Linked DNA regions of Homo sapiens. The protein of the gene in region 2 binds, or shares a complex with, the protein of the main gene of each other region. Each region holds a gene or a part of one and is shown on either strand. Other genes may lie near its edges. The genes, in order: EIF4E and EIF4G1.

Region 1 (12,098 bases), on a different chromosome or scaffold from region 2:
TTATTATCCTTTCTTGTCCCCAGGAAAAAGGTTTAAAATAACATCATGATTCTAAAATGGTAATACCAATAATCAAATGCTACACATCAGTTATTTCAAAAATTTAGAACTGTATACATTTAATGTGTTAATTCCTCCTTTGCACCTAAAAGCTGATGCTTAAAATTGGACTTCATCTTAGAATTAAGAAAATAGATCAATTTATAATAGATACACTACTTCAGTCCCACCCACTGCCAACATACCAGTAACATCATCACTTTTAAGTAAACTCTTGAAGTACTCAAAACTATACATATTGACATAGACAGTAAGTCACCTTAACCAATTACCCAAGTTTAACTAGCAGATATTATGTACAGTATGCTGAGATTATAATAAACACAGAATTCTGATTCAGTATTTCTAGAATACTGAACAAGAGGTGTTTGTGGCATTGAGAGTACTGTGATAACCTGTGGTACCCTTTAAACTGCTTTAAAATTTTACAATGAAATCAGTGCTATTAATTTCATGTTTATTTCATACAGGGTTTTTGTCAAGTTTATCAGTTTTAAAATGATTAAGTCATAATCACCATTCAAAGACAAATTTTCCTCTCAAAATAATAATTTCCATTCTGCTACCTACAGTTTGGCTTATCCTTTGGTCTGATAGCCATACTTCATCTCACAGGACTATACAAGTATGTACTATGTACAAAACATTTTCAAGTTTGCTTTCAAATGATACCTACAAAGAGTAGATCAAGTTTTCAAGTTTACAGAATACCATACTACAACAATTTACCACTATAAATATGTCTTAACACCTGTTTATTCCATTCTATTTAGATTGCAACACTAACAAGATTCTTAATGCATATGTCCCCACCACCTGTACTTTCCCTACACTATCATTTTGACACTTAACATAGAAACAACTCAATTCAGCAACCAAGTTTTACAACCACTGTTGCTACCAATCAAATGGTGATGCATCAGATCCCAATTCTCATGAGTATTAACATATTAAGAGAGTACATTATTTACCTAAGACTGAATGACTGTGCCTTACTTTATAAAAAAACAAAGATAGCCACATCAATTTAATTCCATATATATGATACTACCTATTCAATTTATTAAAAATTGTAATAAACATAATAATCAAACTAGTGCTCCAAACTTATGCTGTTCACATGGAAGACACCACAAAAGAAGACATAATATAGAGACTGCCTTGCAATAAGAAGTACAAATTCCTTCTATAAAGATGGAGAAATAAAAGGACAAATCTAGTTGTCTAAAAGACAATTCACTGTACACATTTTATTTACAGTTTTGTACACTGTCTTAATATGAATGGGACTGCTTTTCTACTTGAGCCATTTTTAACCAAAGCAAAATAACCTAAGTAATACAAAGTGTTAAAATACAGCATAAAGATACAAAAACAGACATACTAATTCTAGTTAGGAATGTAATTATGATGTTACATTTTTTATAATCCACAATTATGTTTAGGAAATCACACAAACATAGATCACTGATTTGAATGAAATGCATAAATTTGTAGCAAAGCTTTGTAGTTACAAAAAACAAAAAAAATTACCAAAGAATGCACAAAATTAATGTTTATTCCACCTTTGTGTCATATTCCTGGATCCTTCACCAATGTTACATGAGGAAAAAAACAAAAGCAAAACAAATGAAAAACTGAAATCAGAATCACTAATATTATCAAGTAGGGAAACAAATAAATTAAAATCTAGCAGCCATCAGCAAGAGTACAGCAAAGACAATGCTGTAAAAAGAAACAAAGAAAATTGCTAGAAAACTGTATGCATCATAATCTTTCAAACCAGCAAAATATGCTTCTGCATAAAATGGAACAACAGAATTTTTTTTCCTGTAAAGTATAGAAATGCCAAGTTGTTTTCTGACTATTGTGGATAGGTAAAATCTGTATGTAATTAATGGTAATTCTACTGAACTATTACAGAGTGGGCCAGGAACACATTTATGGATTCTGGGGATGTGTACTGTAATTCTTTGATTGGGATAGTGGAAACTCTAGCCAAAAAAAAAAAAAAAAATGAACACAGAAGTACAAGACAAAGGCGAATGAGACTTCTCTTATATCTGAGTAACATTAAGATGGAAATCAAATTTAAATGCAGTCCACTCTGCTTTTTGAAGAGGCTTTGGTTCAGCTCCCAAATCTCGATTGCTTGACGCAGTCTCCTATGAGAATACTCAGAAGGTGTCTTCTTAAACAACAAACCTATTTTTAGTGGTGGAGCCGCTCTTAGTAGCTGTGTCTGCGTGGGACTGATAACCAATCACTATCTTTGGAGGAAGTCCTAACCTTTCCTTGTATACCCTCCTAGAAGAAAAAAAAAAAGAAGAAGAAAAAAGTAGTCATTAACTTTTACTCACAAGAAATACATTTAAAAATTTAGGGTTATTAGTCTTTATATTAAAAAACATAGACTTGAGAATAAAATAGGAAATTAATTATACACCCTTTTCCTTTCAGCACAATTTACTCTTCATTTTTGCGATATTCTTGGTTAATTACTTTTAAAATATTTGAGAGCGAGTCAGGTATGTTATTACTAAATTACAGGAGCATTACTATATTATTATATTGTTATTTATTATGATACTATAATTATTACTAAATCAACAGTGAACAAAGTAAGGACAGTCCCTGAGCTGACTGCATTTATAGTCTAGTAGAGAAAACATAATCAAATAATCACAAATACATGACAGACCTGTATCACATGCATACTTAAAAACAGAAATCTGTAAAACAAACATGTTTCATTCTTTGATCTAAAATGTTACATTTCACGTCTGAACCCTAGCAAATATTGTATATTACTACACAAATTATATTAACCATACCTGTTATAAGACTGCACAAACAAAAACTAAACACTTTGAGGGAGATTAAACACTTCGAGGGAGTGAATGAAACACTTCGAGGGAGAATGTAATTTCTGCTTTACATACTAACTTTACAACCTAATTTTCAAGTAAGACATGACTCTATTGCAAGAATAAAATGGCACTTGTCATGAGTGCCAAAGAGTAAACATAAGGGCTGTGATACTGTATAACAAGGAGATTCTAATCTCATCTACAACATTAGAGAAGTCTTCCCCTTTAAATATCACGAGGTCAAAAGGATAATGTTAAGAGAATGAGCACATTTGAAAGCTGAGAAATAAAAATTAGGCTGTGTGGCTATGGCTTGTAAGTAAAGTGAACATGAGATAAAGCTGACAAGGTTTCAGAGGAAGATCACAGAGAGCTTCATAGGTCATCTTAAAAATTTGAATCTTTGGCTGGGCGCGGTGGCTCACGCCTGTAATCCCAGCACTTTGGGAGGCCGAGGCGGGCGGATCACGAGGTCAGGAGATCGAGACCATCCTGGCTAACATGGTGAAACCCCGCCTCTACTAAAAATACAAAAAATTAGCCGGGTGTGGTGGCAGGTGCCTGTAGTCCCAGCAACTCGGGAGGCTGAGGCAGGAGAATGGCGTGAACCTGGGAGGCAGAGCTTGCAGTGAGCTTGAGTGAGACTGTGCCACTGCACTCCAGCCTGGGTGACAGAGCAAGACTCCGTCTCAAAAAAAAAAAAAAAAAAGAAAAAAGAATCTTTAGGAAAAAAATAGTAAAAATTCAAAAATAAGCAAAAATCAAATAAAAATAAAGGAATAAAGATATTAATGGAGTTAAATCCTCCAACATGATACTAGGATAGGTTTTTTTTATACCTTCCAGAAGATTTACTACCTTCCCCCTAAAATAAGGTATTAAAAAGTAATTTTATGGTAACTAAAGTGTTAATTATCAAATTTGCATTATAATGCAATGCATTCCTTTCAATTATACTTAATTATTAAAAATGTCAAAAAGCAAGACCATTGAGTCATGCAAATTGGAAGGTTAAAAAAGAAAATCTTCGTTTGAAAATCTGAAGTCTTAATATACACTCAAAAACATTTAATATTGACAAAAATACAAAACTTCCGTAGGAAAAAAATTCTTAATTTAACTCATTTAAAAAAAAAAAAAGTAAATCCTCCAAAATTAGGTTTTGATGCTGGAAGAAACATTAAAATATGATGACAAATCAACTCTTTTCTCTTATGGAACCCCATATAGCATGAAATGTAGAAAATCCCTATACCTTTTGATCCAGAAATAAATTATGTTCACATAAAAATTTACATGGCTGAGAGCAATGGATCACGCCTGAAATCCCAGCACTTTGGGAGGCTGAGGCAGGTGGATGACTTGAGGCTAGGAGTTTGACACCAGCCTGGCCAACATGGCGAAACCCTGTCTCTACAAAAACTACTGCAGTGGTTCAGGCCTGTGGTCCCAGCTATTCAGGAGGCTGAGGCAAGAGAATCACTTGAACCCAAGAGGTGGAGGTTGCAGTGAGCTGACATCGCGCTACTGCACCCCAGCCTGGGCAACAGAGTGTGACTCTGTCTCAAAAAATTAATTAATTTTAAAAAGAAAAATTAATAATATTTGAAAAATCACAAAGGGGCAAACCAAACATTTTGACCACTGACTGACCAGCACTTAATTTTAACATAAAATTGTAAGTCAAATTTTTTTTTTTTTTTTTTTTTTTGTGAGACAGTCTCGCTCTGTCTCCCAGGCTGGAGCGCAGTGGCCCAATCTTGGCTCACTGCAAGCTCCGCCTCCCGGGTTCATGCCATTCTCCTGCCTCAGTCTCCCAAGTAGCTGGAACTACAGGCGCCCGCCACCACGCCCAGCTAATTGTTTTTTTTGTATTTTTAGTAGAGACGGGGTTTCACCGTGTTGGCCAGGATGGTCTCAATCTCCTGACCTTGTGATCCACCTGCCTCAGCCTCCCAAAGTGCTGCGATTACAGGTGTGAGCCACTGCGCCTGGTGTCAAATATTACTAATATAATTGAGGTAAAAAGAAATCTTAGAAAAAAAATGTCAGCTGGTTTAGCATGGTGGCTCACGCCTGTAATCTCAGCACTTTGAAAGGCTGAGGTGGCTTGATCAAGTCCAGGAGTTCATGACCAGTCTGGGCAACATGGCAAAACCTCTTCTCTACAAAAAATACAAGAAAATAGCCAGGTGTGGTCATACACACCTGTAGTTGCAGCTAATTGGGTGGCTGAGGTAGGAGTATCACCTGAGCCCAGGAGGTTGAGGCTGAAGTGAGCCATGACTGCACCACTGCACTCTTGCCTGAATAACACAGTGAGACCCTGTCTCAAAAAAAAAAAAAAAGCCACTTTTGCAAAGAATAAAATTTACAAAAAAAGGTTTAATAAAACCCTACATATGTGGGTTTTAAACATGGAACAAAAACCAAGATATGTTATATAAATTTTAATGAAAATTATACGTAGTAAACACACATGCTTTAAATGCACATATACTATTTGCCAATAATCACTGAATTATTATTATGAGCATACATTAGCTCTTTTCAAAGTAGTACTTTTTTCCAAACAGCACTTTCAAAGTAGGAAATAATACATTCTCATTTGTGAATGAATAAAAAATGCTACATGCCAAAGGAGAGTGCTCTAGTGGTTATATACTTCACTGCTAAGAAAAAGCAATTTTACAGAAATAAAAAACATATGAAAAAGGCCAGGCGCAGTGGCTCATGCCTGTAATGATAGCACTTTGGGAGGCTGAGGTGGACGGATCACTTGAGACCAAAAGTTAAAAGACCAGCCTGGCCAACGTGGCAAAACCTGGTCTCTACTAAAAATATAAAAATTACCCAAGCATGGTGGCATGCGCCTGTATTCCCAGCTACTCGGGAGGCTGAGACATAACAATCTCCTGAACCCGGGAGGCGGAGGTTGCAGTGAGCCTAGATCATGCCACTGTACTATATATAGCCTGGACAACAGAGTGAGACTCTATCTCTAAATAAATAAATAAATAAATAGCTGTGAAAAAACCCAAAAAAACAAGACGTTGCGCACCAATTGAGCCGTTCAAAATTATAAAAGTGTTCACGAAAACAATACAAGGAAAACAGGATCTACAAACTGAAGTATTTCTAAAGCTACAAATAAAATAACTTCTGGTTTTACTCATCTTAATACTGTAAAATAAGTAGGCAAAGAGCAAAACTTACCCTATATGTGTAACAGCTTCTCTGTTTTCACATTCAGTAGTCCATATTGCTATCTTATCACCTTTAGCTCTAACATTAACAACAGCGCCACATACATCATCACTGTAGTCATCAAAAGATTCTCCAATAAGGCACAGAAGCTTAAAAAAAAATCCCAAATTACATTTAATAGATTATAAACAAGCTCATTACACTGCAAATGTCTCTTCTGTATTTGCATAGAAACTAAAGGCAGTTTTTAAATCAAGAGTTAATTTTTTAAATGTGTAAATTTTATTTGCATATATTGATCTGTCCTGACTTTTAAATACTCATTCATTTATTTACTATCAAATCAGCCTTTTTCAGCAAATTTGGCAGTTAATGTCATGGCAGACATAAAAGCTGATTTTATTAATATTCATTTGCTCTGCTGCTGCTTATATTTATGAGCAAACAAATATTAATAGAATAATAAAAATAGCTATTCATGGTTAATCTCCTCTTGTTCTTATTTTTTATGAATATTTGTTAATGGTCTGGTTTTTTGTTGTTGTTGTTGTTTGAGACAGGGTCTTGCTCTGTCACCCTGGCTGGAGTGCAGTGGGATCATCACAGCTCACTGCAGCCTCAACCTCCTGGGCTCAAATGATCCTTCCACCTCAGCCTCCTGAGTAGGTGGGCATACATACAGGGACATGTCACCATACCCAGTTAATTTTTGTATTTTTTGTAGAGACAGGGTTTTGCCATGTTGCCCAAACTGGTCTTGAACTCCTGAGTTTAAGTGAAATGCCTGCCTCAGCCTCCTGAAGTGTTGAGATCACAGGTGTGAGCCCAGCCCTAACAGATTTCTTAATTGTGGTAAAATACAAATAACATAAAATTTACCATTTTAACCACCTTTAAGTGTACAGTTCAGTGGTGTTAAGTACATTCAACATTGTTGTACAACCATCCCTACTACCATCCATCTCCAGAAGATTTTTTTTAACTGCAAAATGGAAATGTCCTGACTTTTTAATGTGGAATTCAAAAATGGTATTTGCTCATGATCTTCCCCCTCAAAAACAGAATTTTCTTCTTAAAAAGTCATTCATTCATTAGCTGGCTGTGCTGGCATGCACCTGTAGTCCCAGCTACTTGAGAGGCTAAGGCAGGATGATTGCTTGAACCCAGGAGGCTACAGTGAGCTATGATGGCCCCACTGCACTCTAGCCTGGGCGACAGAACAAGACCCTGTCTCTAAAAAAAAGCAAAATAGTCACTTATTCAAACATTTAAAGTGATTAACTTAACAAGTGCTAACTATAAACCAGGCACGGTTTCAAGTGCTAGGGATACAAAAGAGACTACAAACCCCGCTCCTATAAGCTTGGGGTTTGGAACCTCTGTCTACAGAAAATGCTTATTATCTCATATTTAATTTGTCTTGTAAAGCCAGAAGTTCCAGTTAATATCACAACATGTAGGTCAAATGGTAGTACACAACAATTTTATTATTTGCTTCACTAATCTAAAAAGTTTAGTGGGACAGGCACAGTGACTCACACCTGTAATTCCAGCACTTTGGGAGGCTGAAGTGGGAGGATCACTTGAGGCCAGAAGTTTGAGACCAACCTGGGCAACATAGCAAGATCCCATCTCTGGAAAAAAATTAGAAAATTAGCTGGGCATGGTGGCATGCACCTGTAGTCCCAGCTACTTAAGAGGCTGAAGTGGGAGGATCACTTGAACCCAGAGGGTGAGGCTGAAATGAGCCATATAAATAAATATCCGCACTCCAGCCTGGGCAACAGAGCAAGACCCTCGCTCTAAAAATATAAGTATTTAAAAGTTTAGTATACATATAGCAATGCTGTAAGAGGGTTGCAAAAACTTCAATCATACAAAATGTAAGGTTCTATAATTTTGAGGTTAATGAAATGACCACAGTGAGCTTACTGTGGTGAGAGTCAACTGCCAATCACTTAAAATATCTGACTTATAATGTGGTAGGATGTTTCACTGTACTATAAACAGGAGTCATATGACAGAACAAAAATAATTACTGACCCTGATTTTCTAGTGTTGGGCATCCTTCTCTTAAATTAAGTAACAAATGTAAAACATAACATATCTTAAGTATCAGTATTCCAAAACTACCTCTAAAACTGCTTTATACTTTTAAAACCTTACTGTCTCTAGCCAAAAGCGATCGAGGTCACTTCGTCTCTGCTGTTTGTTCAATGTAATTAGCCATCGTCCTCCCCGTTTGTTTTTCTCATCTTCCCACATAGGCTCAATACCATCCTACAGGGTTAGAAGACAACAGTATTACACAACATTGTTACCTTGACTTTGAGAGATAATCATTAGAAACAGTTAAGCAACAACACTGTCAACTTCTTACTTTATTGCCCATAAAACTGCCATTGATGTAGTTTTTAAACAGCACATAAGACTTAAAGCCAGAGGCATGACATTGCAGAATTAGAGTCCTGGCTTTGTCACTTATTAGCTATCAAATCTTGGGTTTCACTTAATTTGAAGGTTCTTAAACTTTCTGAGAAGCAAACATATTTTAGAAGCTCTGTACATTTCTACAGCTAGAAAATACATGCAAAAACTATGCAATTTCAGTTAATGAATGTCCCGTCCCTCTACCAACTGACAAAGCCCAATAATAAGTATTCCAAGGACCCATGCTCCTAAGGTTAAGAATGCTTGATAAACTCAGTCTGCTCAAATATATAAAGGAAGGAGTAGACTGGATAATCAAAGCTCTCATCAAAATCAATCTCAGTATGTGCCCACAGAGTAACTCTCTCTCAATTTTTATAAACAAATAGAATAAGATATATTGATACTAAAGCATACTACAGCCAATTAAATTATCAGCCTATTCATCACACTATCAAATATTCCTAAGTTTATGGTAAGATTTCTTAATGAATACCAAATGGCCCAGTCCTATAATAAATATATAAAATCACCAATTAAGCATACCTTAAAAAGTGAGTAGTCACAGCCAGGCATTAAATTACTAGACAACTGGATATGGTTGTACAGACTAGGTAAAAGAAAATAACAATTAAAAACACAGAATATGTAATATAGAGTTTAGGTGCTTACATATATATACATTTAGAACATATGATGAAAATAAACAGATAAAAGTTCATGTTTACTTGTTTCTAAGGAGTCAATTTCTAAAATGGACAAAACAGATCTTAAAAGCAGTTAAATAATCAACTTCAGATGACAGGTATAATTTTCAAAAAAACTTCTAGTGACTGCTCTGACAAAAATATATTTTATGTTAGTTAACTCAGTGCATACATATGTATATATATAAGAAACTGAGAAGAGAGGTATAAGGTGGCTTTAAGTAGATGAAATAATTTCTGAAGTTAATACACAGTTTTTTTCACAAACATAAAAAAACAAAAACAAAAACAAAAACAAAAACCAGAAACGATGAACTTCCTGACCATCAGGATTGCATGACTGAAACAGTCATTATCCTTGAAGGTATCCAAGAGTAGAATAGATCAACGGTTCCCAAACACCACAAACTGTCACTGGTTAGTCAACATAATAATCATTTTAAAACTGATTTTAGAAAAATAAATAAATAAATATAGTTACAAGCCCTACATCTTGGGATTATAATCACCTAAATATAAGATGGAACCCTGCAGTCTGTATTTCTAAACTATTTCCCAAGTATCAAAATAACAGAATAACATTTGCGATGACTTAGTTGCTTGCCTGAAGGTAGGAGGCTTAGATCATTTGATCTCCTGTAGTCTTTTACAGCAAAATTGATTTAAAAATTGGCAACTCTTAAGAATCTTTTGCTTGTCTCCAATATTAGATGGCAGAAATAATGATCTTAGCTGTGTCTACAGACCATGGATGATTCTACTATCCTTAGTCTGGTTCTCCTGGTGCTATGTTAACCCCATCTAGGAATATTTCAGGTAAAGATTTAAGGGCCGGGTGCAGTGGCTCACGCCTGTAATCCCAGCACTTTGGGAGGCCGAGGCAGGTGGATCATGAGGTCAGGAGTTCGAGACCAGCCTGACCAACATGATGAAACCCTGTCTCTACTAAAAATACAAAAATTAGCCGGGCGTGGTGGCATGCGCCTGTAATCCCAGCTACTAGGGAGGCTGAGGCAGGAAAATCGCTTGAACCCAGGAGGCGGAGGTTGCAGTGAGCCGAGATCACCCCATTGCACTTCAGCCTGGTGACAGAGCTAGACTCCATCTCAAAAAAAAAAAAAAGATTTAAGAAAGAAGTTGGCATCTTTAAATCAAATTCCATAGTATAACACACAAATATAGTTTAGGTGAGACAACCTAAGACCACATAAGGTTTGCTGAGTCACTACCTAATGGTAACTCCCAACTACATCATCAATGACAGCCTCCACTAGGCAACAAAAAAAGACGGGATACTAAGTGACTATAAAATTAGCGCTACTAATGTCATAAAATGAATGGATATTGTGGGAATGACCTTCAATAAAATACTTTTTCCCTTTTGCTGCCTCCTTTCTCTTCTGTGGTGCTCAAAGGTCTCTCAAGTAAGTCCATCATGAGAATTTATAATGGCACATCTAAACAGAATCCTAAGACTATGCAGTCTGGATAAATACAAAAGGACTCAATGGTTATCTGCAATAAATTTGCTAGAAAAAAACAGAAATTAGGAAGTGGCCCACACATTTATAGAAAACTGAAAAATCCTTCATATCTCTAAGTTATGGTATAAAAACCTACTATGTAATGACATTGACTACATGTAACTGAAGCATGGAGAACTGTTCTAATTAGAAGGTAGAATTATGTAAACTGGTAAAAGCCAAACAAACTAGATAAATGCAAATCTGATTGGGGAAGGTGGCTCAAGGCTTCCTTTTTCTCTGTAGGAGAATGAAAAGCTTTTTTTTGGGGGGTGCAGAAGACTGGAGTTATTTAAGAGTCCTGAATAAACAAAACTAGAGAAGAAAAACTACTTGATGTTTTGATGATGGGCAAAGAATAATAATCCTAGTTTAACTAGAAAACTAGACCTATAAATTATTAGGCCTTAAATGTAGTTATTATTAAGTGTCAATGCTTTTAATAAAAAATAAATACTCTCAAAGTTTACTCTCAAATGAATGTTCTCAAATACTCTCAAAGTTTATGGTTTTAATCGTATGCTTTGCTTTTTTCAGCAACACAAATGAATACAAAATATCTATTAGAAGCCAAGCACTGGAAATATACAGAAAAATATTGTTTCTGCTGTTGAAGATGTACATACATATGTATAAATTTTATACCACAATCTATTTCTTTGTATGAGCAGAATATCTTGAGGGGGTTACATTAAAACATAAGAGTAGCATCACTAATTCAGCATGTATATGATCCTAAAAAAAGATGTACAAGTTAGAATATTTAGATAACTGCTAGGTAATTTAAAGTGCTTATTAAAGAGTTTTGCCTTTCATGGTCTCAAATAGTACCTCCCTAGTCATTCTCCAAGTAAATTAGACACACTGGATTAACTTTGTTTTTAAGAGAATCAATTATCAAAACTTCTTGAAATAGACTTTACAATTTTTATTTATTTTATAGAGAAACAGGGACTCATGTTGACCAGGTTGGTCTTGAACTCCTGGCTGCAAGTGATCTTCCTGCCTCAGCATCCCAAAGTATTAGTATTACAGGCATGAGTCACTGAGCCCAGCCTTAAATTTTGTTTTAAGGTCATGCAAAAGTTGATGATCCCAATTCTTAACTTTCTGCTATACAGAAACAAAATTTCAAAAATATTTCAACTATTCTTCTTGAGGTTGATCAAAGTATAATGAAATGAATAAAGTATCATGATAGATACTGGCATTGCCTTGACAAACCGTGAATTCTGAACACTTCAGCCTTTGATATCTTAAAATCTCTGGTACAGGAAATTCCAGATATTGCACTGAAAACA
Region 2 (12,467 bases):
TCACTTGAGGCCAGGAGTTCGAGACCAGCCTGGTCAACATGATGAAACACCATCTCTACTAAAAACACAAAAATTAGCTGGGTGTGGTGGCACACGCCTGTAATCCCAGCTACTCGGGAGGCTGAGGCAGGAGAATCACTTGAACCCAAGAGGCGGAGGCTGCAGAGAGCCAAGACTGTGCGACTACATTCCAGCCTGGGTGACAGAGCGAGACTCCGTCTCAAAAAGAAAATTAAAATAATAACAATAAAATTTAGTAGAGACGGAGCTTCACTATGTTGGCCAGGCTGGTCTCGAACACCTGACCTCAAGTGATCCGCCTGTCTTGGCCTCCCAAAGTGCTGGGACTACAGGCGTGAGCCACCGTGCTCAGCCCCCCTCAAATTTTAAAATAGAGACAGGGTCTCACTAAGTTTCCCAGGCTGGTCTCAAACTCCTGGCCTTAAGCAGTCCTCCTGACTCCCAAAGTGCTGGGATTACAAGCAAGATCCGGGCACATTCTTTAATTTCATCCCTAAATTCCACTTGTTTTTGACAAGCACAAGTGTATTTGTTTAAATTTTGCATACATATAAACAAAAACATACATGTATGAGAGATTCATACTCAAAACTTTTCCTGATAGGTGATCAAAAAACTTGGAAGCCACTGCCATAAAGAACAGACTAATCCTTCCCTAGAACATAAATAAAAAATAGCTACAAAAACCTCCCAAATTTGCATTACATGGGCTCCCAACCATGGAAGAAGTGTCACAGGGAAAGCCTACTAATAGGCTCTCAGGCTGGTGCCTGATCCTACATTCCCTGATGTGGGAAAGACTCTTAACTCTCCTGGCAATAAAATCAAATTTTCTCCCCACAATCAACACCAGTTAAATATTAAGCACCAATCCCTACCACCTATTAACCTTATCATTTTTAGACCAGAAGCCAAGCCTGGGAAGGGTCTTCTGCTTTAGAAATCAGCAGATGAGTTTAGATGCTCCCTTGGGCTTGTTCTCACCTCTGACTCCCTCCCCTGCTTACCGTAGGTCCCAAATTCTGTAGGGCTTGCACCTGGATAGAAGCCTGGGGCTCCTGGCTGCACAGGGTACTGCTGTGTCGGGACAACGTATGTGGAACGCCCCTGGTGGGGAAGGGGGAGAGGGAGAGAAGGAGTTGAGGGAGCTATGAGTTCCATATCAGACTCCAAAAAGAACATAGGTCAAGACAAGACAAGCCAACTCTGGGCAATGACCAGAAGGAAGTCCCACCTCTGGAAAAGCAATGGAACTGGAGGGTCAGGGTGAGTTAAGTGAGAGGTATAGGGGTCTGTGGCTTCTAGGCTCCAAGCCCCCAGCCTCACCTGTCCAGGGATGTAGTAGGCCCCCTGGGAGGCTGGGTAGGAGATCTGGGAAGGGATCATCATTACTTGGGATCCAGCAGGGTAGACATGGGCAGCTGGGCCAGGGCGGGCAGGGGCTGCACTCTGCACTCGGGAGGCTGCACTGCTCGGGGGCTGGGCCCGGCTAGGGTAGAAGTGCTGTCAGGAGGGAGGAAAGCAGTTGGCATTGTAAAGAGAAGGAAGTGGACAAAAAATTGCCACTCCACAATGTCTCTATAGCCTGGAAAGAAGTACTGTGGGCTTCAGAACATGGCGACCAATCCTTCCAAGACCACTTGACCAAATGGCTAAGCGGCTTCTTGTACACACACATGCCCTCCAAACCTCCAAATTCAGATGTACACTTTGCATCCTGCAGAGATTTACTCTCTCACTGCCATGCATACACACGTCACCTCTACCAAACTACCCCTCTGCAGAGGCTTCCTAACACCGAGATGCATCATGCCTAAGTAAGGCCCTTTCGGGCAACATATCCCCAGCATGCACTGCTCCACCAGCATGTAATGAGGAGCTAACCATAACATGCAACAGCATCCCAGTCCCCAGATGCGCGTTCTTCAAGATGTAGCCCCTAACATGCATCACTCGGCCTCCAACTGAGAACCTGGACACCAAACAAGTCACTACCCTGAAGATCCCCATTCCCTGTGTCTAGCCCCTGACTAGGGTGGAGGGTAAGGATGAGACCAGAAGACTGTCCAGGGTTGGGAAAGGGATATTACCTGCAGAGACCTGAATCCTCCCTGAGAGCACATGGGGATAGGAAAGAAGAGAATTACCCCCAAGGTGATGGCGGGGGGAGGGAATGAAGGCAATAAGACAGGACAAGAATCCTCCCACTTAGTAAGGAAGAAGCTGGGGAACAGAGAAAGGCAAGGACCAGCTGGAGTGTTTACCTCACCACAGTCCAAAGAGAAAGCAGAGAGAGCAATAGAGCAATAGCAGCCTCCGGTAAAAGGAGCAAATAGGAAAGCAAGAGCTGGCAGCAGGGCCCAAAGCACTGCCCCCAATTCTCAGAGGCACTAGGATCCCAGTAATGCCACCCTCATTGACAACATACTATCCAAGGGACCAGCCACCGTGAGTAATCAACAGGGCAAGGCGCAGAGCCGCATGAAAGAACACAGAGGATTAAGGCCAGGTATGGGGCCTCCAGTTTCCATCCTAGACCTAAACTGGCCAAAGCTTTCCACTGCTCCCACCCAGGTCCCCTACTCCCCTCCCCACAGCCCCTCACCTGGCGGGGCTGAGAAGGCGTGTTCATTTGTGTCGCTTGTGGCGTACTGAACACCACCGGCGCTGTCTGCCCCGGGGGAAACGCTGGCTGAAGAGGGGAGACCAGAGTTCAGCAAGAGGGGAAGCCCAGGTGGGGCAGAAACCCAAGCTGGTGAAATAAGGGGAGCAGATCTGCGGCAAGAGCCTTAACAATCCACATACCCCCTCCCCGTGACAGCCCCCGGGGACAGCCCAGGGGCCCTGTCTCAATTTGGCAGCAGGCGGCTGCACTTTGCCCTGACACAGATGGGGGTAGGAAGATCCAGAGGCTGGAGACTGCCTGGTCTCCCCCACCCCCACCCCTGCTAATTCCTCCCTAATTACCTGTGGGAGTCCGGGGGATGGGGCGGGTGGGGGGCCTGTGGACTGTGGAGCTTTGTTCATTTCATTTGGTGCCACATCAGGGTCCCCCCAGCACCTGTTGGGAAAGAGTGGCGCTCAGGAAGAGGAAGGGACCCAAGCTTAAGGCAAATGGGGCGGTGAAAGGGTTGATGCAAGGGCTGGGTCCCATACGGAGTCCCAGAGATGCCAAGAGGGTGAAGCAGAAAAGATACAGCCTGTCCCCACCAACATGCTGTCAAACCCGCATCACTTCCAACCAACCCCTGACCTACTGAAACAGACCCCTCACTCACCCCCTCGATTAAGAACAAGTCCACGGTGCGGCCTACAGGTTCTGGGCATCCGAGGGCCTGGGGTTGGGAGGTGAGGGTATCAACCTGGCTCCGCGGGGCCCCAGACCAACCAGACCGGAAATTCCAGGTCTCGCTGGCACCAGGCTCCCGGATCACGAACGGAGCTAGCTGCTTCGGCCGTGGCGTCCCCACCCCCCACCCGGGGACACCGGGTTCGGGCCTGGCCCAGGGGCACACAGGATACGCCTGCCGCCGGGGAACCCGCACTGGGCCAGAAGCTAGGCCTGCCGCCGCCCAGGAGTGTAGGCCAGGAAGGGCGGGAGTCAGGCCCTAAAAGGCCAGGCGGGCGGCGGCCGTCGAGGAGCCGGTTTCAGGCAAGTGAGGGTCGGCCCGGAGGGCGGGCGGGGCCGGGGGCTCCTCCCTGCCCGCCGCCACCGCCTCCCTCCCCTGCGCCCTCCCTGCGCAGCGCGGGCCAGTGCCAAAGAACAACGTGTCACTTCCCGGCGGCCTGGCCGCGAAGGGGGGAGGGGGCGGCGGGCCGGGAGCCGTGGTGCCTGCGCCCGTGGGCTGCCGGGCCTCCTCGGGTCAGGCCGAGGTGGCATTTCGCGGCGACGAACCCGGCGCCCTACCAGCCCGCGGGGCCCGCATAGTCCGGCCCTGCGCTCCCCACCCCCACCCAGCAGCCAGGCCCGGCCGGGCCAGGCACACGTGGGCCGGGGATCGGGACCCTGGCGGGCCGGGGCCCTGGGTCGGGCCGCGGGGCCAGGGCGCCGGGGCGGCGGCGCAGGGTGGCCGGTCCCGGCCCGGATGGCGGCGGATGCGGGGGGAGGGGGTGGGGGGGCCGGGTCGGGCCCGGACATGGCGGCTTTACCTTCAGTCTCCTTCAGTCCGCGCGGCCGAGCCCCACGCAGCCGCACAGACGTAGTCCACAACCATTTCCGGCTCCCCGCACAGATCCCGCTCGGCGGCCACCGCTTCTCCGCAGGCGCAGCCGGCGCCCCCACGTGACCGGCGCAGGGGGCGGAGCCGCGCCGGGCGATCTGCGCCGCCGAGCACATGGGATTTGCCCCCGCCCCGTCACGTGACAGCCACAGCCCGCCCCCGTGTCCCCTCCCGAACTTTGAAACTCCCAGACCGATTCCCCTCTGTGTTTCTCTCTGTTCCGCGATTCTTTAGTTCATTCATATTTTAAGCAACCATTTATTGAGTGCATGCTAAGTACAAGGCGAAGTGCTGGTTGAGGGCTGAGAAACTGAAATCAAAGTCTCGGCAAAAAAAAAAAAAAAATAAGCGGGGCGCGGTGGCTCACACCTTAATCCCAGTACTTTGGGAGGCCGAGGTGGGCGGATCACGAGGTCAAGAGATCGAGACCATCCTGGCCAACATGGTGAAACCCCGTCTTTACTAAAAATACAAAAATTAGCCGGGCGTGGTGGCGCACCCGTAGTCCCAGCTACTTGGGAGGCTGAGGCAGGAGAATTGTTTGAGCCCGGGAGGCAGAGGTTGCAGTGAGCGGAGATTGTGCCACTGCACTCTAGCCTAGCCTGGCGACAGGGCGAGACTCCATCTCAAAAAAAAAAAAGAAAGAAATTAAAGACTCCGTCCTGCCTAAGTAAATCGTGATACAATACGAATTATGCAGGCTTTGAAAATAATTTAGATTAGGTCATTGAAAGGCCAATAACAAAGGAAATTAAAAGGATAGAAACATTCTAATTAGGCAAGTAGTATGAGATTTGTAGTTTAAAAAGATCATGGGCCGGGCGCAGTGGCTCACGCCTGTAATCCCAGCACTTTGGGAGGCCGAGGCGGGCGGATCACGGGGTCAGGAGATCTAGACCATCCTGGCCAACATGGTGAAACCCCGTCTCTACTAAAATACAAAAAATTAGCTGGGCCTGGTGGCGCACGCCTGTAGTCCTAGCTACTCGGTAGGCAGAGGCAGAGAATTGCTTGAACCCGGGAGGCGGAGGTTGCAGTGAGCCGAAATTACGCCACTGCACTCTAGCCTGGCGACAGGGTGAGACTCCATCTCAAAAAAAAAAAAAAAGAAAGAAAAAAAGAAATTAAAGACTCAGTCCTGCCTAAGTAAATCGTGATACAACACGAATTATGCAGGCTTTGAAAAGAATTTAGATTAGGTCCTTGAAAGGCCTATAACAAAGGAAATTAAAAGGATAGAAACATTCTAACTAGGCAAGTAGTATGAGATTTGTCGTTTAAAAAGTTAGAAACATTCTAACTAGGCAAGTAGTATGAGATTTGTCGTTTAAAAGGATCATGGGCCGGGCGCGGTGGTTCACGCCTGTAATCCCAGCACTTTGGAAGGCCGAGGCGGGCGGATCACGGGGTCAGGGCGGATCACGGGGTCACCATCCTGGCCAACATGGTGAAACCCCCATCTCTACTAAAATACAAAAAATTAGACGGGTCTGGTGGCGTGCGCCTGTAGTCCCAGCCACTCAGGAGGCAGAGGCAGAAAACTGCTTGAACCCGGGAGGCAGAGCTTGCAGTGAGCCAAGATTGCGCCACTGCACTCTAGCCTGGATGACAGTGAGACTCTGTCTCAAAAAATAAAAATAAAAATAAAAAATAAAGGCAGGCACGGTGGCTCACGCCTGTAATTCCAGCACTTTGGGAGGCCAAGGCAGGCAGATCACCTGAAGTCAGGAGTTCGAGAGCACCCTGGCCAACATGGTGAAACCTCATCTCTACTATAAATAGAAAAATCAGCCAGATGTGGTGGCAAGCACCTGTAGTCCCAGCTAGTGGAGAGGCTAAGGCAGGAGAATCGCTTGAACCTGGGAGTTGGAGGCTGCAGTGACCTGAGATCACAACTGCATTCCAGCCTGGGCAACAGAGTGAGACTCTGTTTCAAATAAATAAATAAATAAATGAAATAAAATATAAAAAGAGCAGACACTCCCACGGAGGGGCAAAAGCGTAAGGATGGAAGAATAAGGACAGAAGAGAAGTAATCTTAAAACTGACAGCCGGTCGGGGGCGGTGGCTCACGCCTGTAATCCCAGTATTTTGGGAGGCTGAGGCAGGCGGATCACCTGAGATCGGGAGTTTGAGACCAGCCTGACCAACATAGAGAAACCCCGTCTCTACTAAAAATATACAAAAATTAGCCAGGCATGGTTGCGCATGCCTATAATCGCAGCTACTCAGGAGGCTGAGGCAGGAGAATTGCTTGAACCCGGGAGGTGGAGCTTGCGGTGAGCTGAGATCCTGCCATTGCACTCCAGCCTGGGCAACATGAGCGAAACTCCGTCTCAAAAAAAAAAAGAAAAAGCTGACAGAGGCCAGAAGGGACCATCATCTACAGCCAAATCCACAGGTCAGATTGCTTGAGTTTTCATCCAAACTCTGATACTTATTACCTGGCCAGAATTTGTTAACTTTCCCTACTCAATCAAGTCCCCCAAATATATTGTTGCTTACGTAATAGATAGTGCCTAACCTGAAAATCTGGGATTCATCCTATATTCCTTCTCCATCCACACACTACATCTAATCAGACACCAGGTCTTACTGGTATTTGGATCAAAATCAAGTCCTATTGATCTTATCTTTTAAAAAATAACTATTCTACCCTTCCCTATGTCCCCATTTCAACTGCCTTAGTTCAAGCATTCATTTTCCTTGCCTGCTCTCCTGTCCTCCAGGGTTAGCTTTCTCACCCAGATAGCTGATCATGTCACTTTTCTGCTCTCATTCAGTGGGCCCCATTGAAAGATACTGTCAAATTCTTAGCACAACAAAGCTCTTGTAAACCTAGTCTGAGCCTGAATTTCCAGCTGTATCTCCTACCACCCTTTTCCCTGGCCCCTATACATTTAGCCAAACCAAATTATCTGTAAGTTTCTGAAAACAGCTTTTCCTCCTTCTTGCCTTTGCTACTCCCTTAGCTATATTCTGCCCTCTTTTCCTCTGTACAAACTTATCTTCCTCTAAGGATATAAGCTTCCTCAAAGTCCCCCGATTGCCCCAGGCACTTAGGCCCCATCTCAGTGATACCAGGGTACCTTGTTCACACCCTGGTAAGTATCGATCACAGTTGTTTTCATCATTTCATTAAACTTTTTGAGCATAGGGGTTTTTTTCTGTATTTGCATCCCCATAAATTAGACGAATGTCTGATGCAGAGTAAGGCTCCACTGCTATTCACTGATGAATGAAGAACTAAAGGTGAAAGGTTAAAAGCCACTATGAAACTGTCTTATTCTAAAGCACAATCACCTAAATCACAATTTGGGAGAGAATCATTCTTTTTAGTTTACAAATCACTTTTTATTCTAACATCACCACCACTGGAAATCAGGTAAGGCAACTACTATATCCACATTATATAATAACAGAGGCTCATCACATCACACATGCTAACTTGAAGATTATGGCAGGAACCATAAAGGGGCTCAACAGGGATTCCTTAATCCTGTTTCAACCTTTTTATACAGGCTGCCAAGATGACTCAATCCAAAATTGCTGATGTCTCATGCCTGTAATCCCAGCTACCTGAGAGGCTGATGTGGGAGAATCACTTAAGCCTAGAAGTTCAAGGCTGCAGTGAGCCATGATCATGCCACTGCACTCCAGCCTGGGCCACAAAGTGAGACTTTGTCTCTAAAAAAATTTAGTAATAAAATAACTGGGCCAGGTGTGGTGGCTTACACCTGTAATCCCAGCACTTTGGGAGGCCGAGGCAGGTGGATCACAAGGTCAGATCGAGACCATCCTGGCCAACATGGTGAAACCCCGTCTCTACTAAAAATACAAAAATTAGCAGAGCATGGTGGCGCATGCCTGTAGTCCCAGCTACTCAGGAGGCTGAGGCAGACAGTCTCTTGAACCCCAGACGCAGAGTGAGCCGAGATCACGCCACTGCACTCCAGCCTGGGCAACAGAGCACGACTCTGTCTCAAAATAAATAAATAAATAAATAGCCAGGCATACTGGCTCATGCCTGTGATCCCAGCACTTTGGGAGCTGAGGTGGAAGGATCCCTTGAGGCCAAGAGATTGAGACCAGCGTGGGCAACACAGCAAAACCCCCACCTCCACAAAAATAAAAGTAGGCCAGCTGTGGTGGGTCATGCCTATAGTCCTAGTTACTACTTGGGAGGCTGAGTCAGGAGGATCACTTGAGTCCAGGAGTTTGAGGCTACAGTGAGCTATGACTGTGCCACTGCACTCCAGACTGAGTGATAAGAGTGAGACCATTTCAAAAAAAAAAAAAAAAAGCCAGAAGTGGTGGTACACACCTGTAGCCCTACCTTACCTGCTTGGGAGGCTGAGGGTCAAGCCTTCTTGAATCCACTTTCTACAAGGACATCCTAGAAGTAGATGTTAACATGATCAAATTCCTCATAGCAGCCTCCCAAGAGGGACAGATGGTTGCGGGAGGTAAAGATGTCCTTTTCATTCAGTAGCACGTAAGTCAAGTTAGAAAAGTATGAGGCTGCCCACTCTTGGGCATCCTTAGCCCAAGGTCAGAAGATGATAGGCTTGAAGAGGGTGTATTGGTGGTGGAGGGTGAGTGTGGGGGGTTATTTACAGGATCCACAAGCCCCCTGAAGTTATTTGGAAGAGTTTGTGTAAAAATTTGTGTATTTGCGTCTCCTAGGAAGAATATCCATTGGCTGGGCACGGTGGCTCACACCTGTAATCCCAGCACTTTGGGAGGCCGAGGCAGGTGGATCATCTGAGGTCAGGAGTTCGAGACCATCCTGGCCAACATGGTGAAACCCCGTCTATTAAAAATACAAAAATTTGCCGGGTGCGGTGGCTCACGCCTATAATCCCAGCACTTTGGGAGGTTGAGGCAGGCGGATCACAAGGTCAGGAGATCGAGACCATCCTGGCTAACATGGTGAAACCCCGTCTCTACTAAAAATATGAAAAATTAGCCAGGCGTGGTGGCAGGTGCCTGTAATCCCAGCTACTCGGGAGGCTGAGGTAGGAGAATGGCGTGAACCCGGGAGGTGGAGCTTGCAGTGAGCCAAGATCGCACCACTGCACTCCAGCCTGGATGACACAGCGAGACTCCATCTCAAAAAAACAAAAACAAAAAACAAAAATTAGCCGGGCGTGGTGGCAGGCACCTGTAGTCCCAGCTACTTGGGAGGCTGAGGCAGGAGAATGGCGTGAACCCGGAAGGCAGGCGTTGCAGTGAGCCGAGACTGCCTCACTGCACTCCAGCCTGGGGGAGACAGCAAGACTCTGTCTCAAACAAAACAAAACAAAACAAAAAGAAGATCCATTACATTTATTGGCTTCTCAAGGGTTCTAAGAAAATGCAAAGAGAAGATGATTAGAAAGGAGGGGCTTAGTTTTTTCCACCCAGGGGAGGGAAGGGGCTCAGTTCTTTCCATCCAGGGCAGTGCTGCTAACCTAAACTCAGCGTTGCTCCTAACAATGCCCTCTCACTTCCACTCCTTACTCTAGTTTAGACTCCAGCCATGACACCCCAGAAAACAGACACAGAGAGACCTTGGGGATAAAAGTCTTTATTGAACAACCTTATCTCACTCAGTAACAAAAGAGCAGGAGGCGACAATTCCCCCAGAAGTCTGCAGCCGTGTCCACCCTTGGCAGCAGGATGCATGGCCTGCTGATAACATCAGCTGCAGTTCAGAGCCCCTGGTGGTCACTTAGAGATCATAATTGGGGTTCTTCCGAAGGATAACAAAACCTTCCAGAATGGGGGTAACAGGAAGAAACTCCTCAGTGGCCAATTCTGCCCGTTCCCCGTGGGCCAACAACACTGGGGTTGTATGCGTCTGGAACCCTGTGATAGTCTTCGGCTTGCCAGCCTGGCCCACCACATCCACTGCCTGTAGGGTAAGAAAATTGAAAAGAGAGATGGAAAAGTAGCGACAAGCCACCGCCCACGCCAGTTTCAGCAAAGCAAGTATATGTACATTCTCCAGTTTGAGAATACAGCCTGAGCCCTCCCCTCTACTCAGCCTCTCACCTGGCCCACACGGACAGACACTGGCAATGGCCGCAGCTCCTCATCAAACGTAACCAGCATTCGGGGCTGCATGGCAGCCACCAGCCCATACAATACATAGTGTGATTTGCCTAGAATAACTGAGGGAAGCAGACAGGACAAAAAGTTAAGAGACAAAAAGACAGGCCTGGCCAGAAACATTGAGAGCCCACCTCAGCGCTGACCCTTTAACCCGTCAGTCATACGACTGAATCCACACTCCTCCCCTCATACACCCTACTACGAACCAGAGACGCCCCCACCTCACTTTGCTTACAGCCCTTAGACTTGAAAATCGCATTTCCCCAGTGACTTAGGAGCAGACGCTGGGCACATCACCCTCAAATCTCTTTGGGCCAGATCAAAAGTGTGGGTGATGAAAGTCTCATGTCACAGGCCCAAAGCCTGTCTCAGAAACCTAGAGCGATACAGAGCTAAACTGGGGTCTTGAACCTAAATTATCAAAGTGGCCCTGGAAAGGGTGGAGTCAGAGCCCTGCATGCTATGATATAAAATTTCTGACAGGAACTCACTGTTTCGAACATCCAGGAAAGAGACAAGCACAGTGAGCAGTCCAGCCACGGCCACCTGGCTCATAAGCTGCCGGTCGCTGTGGTAGGGGCAGAGGGTAAGGGTGCCCTTCCCTAAATGTGTCAGGCCCTGAAAAAAACAGAGGGAAGTAGAGGTGAGGAGTTACCACTGAGGAGACATCGCCTAACCCAGCCAAACAGAAATCTCCCACTTGGTCACATCTTTCCTCCTGGGCCAACACTCCATGTTCCTCCTTCCATCACCACAGATACTTCCCCGGCACGCTCTGTGGAGGAGTTCTATTCTTTACCTGTGCCAAGCGCACCATGAAGAGGTTGTTTGGGTCCTTGGCATGATATTGAGCTAACTGGCGCAGCATTGCAGCCAGACGGGCATTATTGGTACCTGGAAATGTTAAGCATTACAGAAGTGAAAAAAGGGGCTTCAAATCTTCCCCCAATCTGTTTATGACCTTCTTCTGCCGGATACTCACCACTGCCCACCATGCCCATGGCAAAAATGGAGTTATAGGAAACTTCTGGATCAGCATCATGAGAGAATTTGCTTAGGGTATCCAGGATGTTGAGTCGTGGATTTGAAACAGAGATGAGGGCCAGTGCTAAAGGTACAGCCCTCCGGAGTGTAGGCTCCCCATATCTCAGCTGATGATCCAAGAAAATACAACAGTAAGGCGGAATGCAGTAAAAACAAATTCCATTACAGGAGTGGACTGATGGGTAAAAGGGGGCCTTAACTTCTGTAGAAAAGGCACAGCAGGCTGGGCATGGTGGCTCATGCCTGTAATCCCAGCACTTTGGGAGGCCGAGGCAGGTGGATCATGAGGTCAAGAGATAGAGACCATCCTAGCCAACATGGTAAAACCCTGTCTCTACTAAAAATACAAAAATTAGCTGGGCATGGTGGCATGTGCCTGTAGTCCCAGCTACTTGTGAGGCTGAGGCAGGAGAATCACCTGAACCCGGGAGGCAGAGGTTGCAGTGGGCCAAGACCGTGCCATTGCACTCTAGAGCAAAACTCCGCTTCAAAAAAGAAAAGAAAAAAGAAAGAAAAGGCACAGCAAAAAGACCAGCTCTCCACCAAGAAAACCCATCAGAAAAATCTTCCCTGGGGAACCCCAGGCCATCAAAACCAGTATATTCCAATTTTCTTCATGCTATACTCACCAAGTGGCCAAAGGTTCGTAATGCCATCTCTGCACCAATCTCCTCCCCCATAGCAATAAGGGCAATCCCCAGAACAGCCACTCCCTGCAATTGAAGAGAGAGCAGAACCCATTAAGCTCAAGGAATAAAAAACAGTCACCCTTGACTCAAGTCCCATCTGAAAATAAAAAGCCATCCTGTGGGGAACACCTTTACCCCTTACATACAGAACCCAGTCACACGCTATTTCAATACATGGCAATACCCAGAGAGGCCCTAAAGCAAAAACCAAACCCAGCCTCCCCTATATGCTTATCTCTTCTCACAGCCTCTCTGCAAGTGCCCAGCTGCCCATATAACCTGATGTGCTCCCATGTCAGCAGGGGCTTCCTTCTTGTCCTTGTCTTTCTTTTCCTTCTTGTCTTTGTCTTCCTCCTTCTCTTTGGAGTCAAAGTGTTCGCTACAAATGTGGAGCAGC

What was found.
Region 1: the proteins of EIF4G1 (region 2) and EIF4E are in contact, whole or in part, in a crystal structure (PDB 5T46), measured with the Homo sapiens proteins. Residues at the interface, in NP_937884.2 of Homo sapiens: Glu608, Lys609, Lys610, Arg611, Tyr612, Arg614, Phe616, Leu617, Leu618, Phe620, Gln621, Phe622, Ile623, Phe624, Ala625, Ser626, Met627, Gln628, Lys629, Pro630, Leu633, Pro634, Ile636, Asp638, Val639, Val640, Leu641; in NP_001959.1 of Homo sapiens: Pro31, Tyr34, Lys36, His37, Pro38, Leu39, Gln40, Phe47, Lys49, Arg61, Leu62, Ile63, Ser64, Val69, Glu70, Trp73, Ala74, Leu75, Tyr76, Asn77, His78, Ile79, Gln80, Leu85, Tyr91, Glu132, Leu135, Ile138, Gly139, Glu140.

The regions. Positions count from the first base shown.
Region 1 is NC_000004.12:98,878,776-98,890,873, forward strand, and holds the end of EIF4E (eukaryotic translation initiation factor 4E), read right to left. Parts: intron 9,178-12,098; coding exon 9,114-9,177; intron 8,418-9,113; coding exon 8,304-8,417; intron 7,772-8,303; coding exon of another isoform or gene 7,679-7,771; intron 6,287-7,678; coding exon 6,147-6,286; intron 2,368-6,146; coding exon 2,253-2,367; 3' UTR 501-2,252; downstream 1-500. UniProt on the Homo sapiens protein: Acts in the cytoplasm to initiate and regulate protein synthesis and is required in the nucleus for export of a subset of mRNAs from the nucleus to the cytoplasm which promotes processes such as RNA capping, processing and splicing.
Region 2 is NC_000003.12:184,306,378-184,318,844, reverse strand, and holds the start of EIF4G1 (eukaryotic translation initiation factor 4 gamma 1), read right to left. Parts: upstream 4,240-12,467; 5' UTR 4,171-4,239; intron 3,682-4,170; exon of another isoform or gene 3,357-3,681; 5' UTR 3,300-3,356; intron 3,083-3,299; 5' UTR 3,049-3,082; coding exon 2,989-3,048; intron 2,774-2,988; exon of another isoform or gene 2,714-2,773; coding exon 2,627-2,713; intron 2,133-2,626; coding exon of another isoform or gene 2,112-2,132; intron 1,525-2,111; coding exon 1,348-1,524; intron 1,129-1,347; coding exon 1,029-1,128; intron 1-1,028. Other genes in the region: PSMD2 (26S proteasome non-ATPase regulatory subunit 2), read right to left, coding at 9,955-10,137, 10,278-10,396, 10,829-10,955, 11,137-11,231, 11,320-11,488, 12,011-12,094, 12,350-12,467.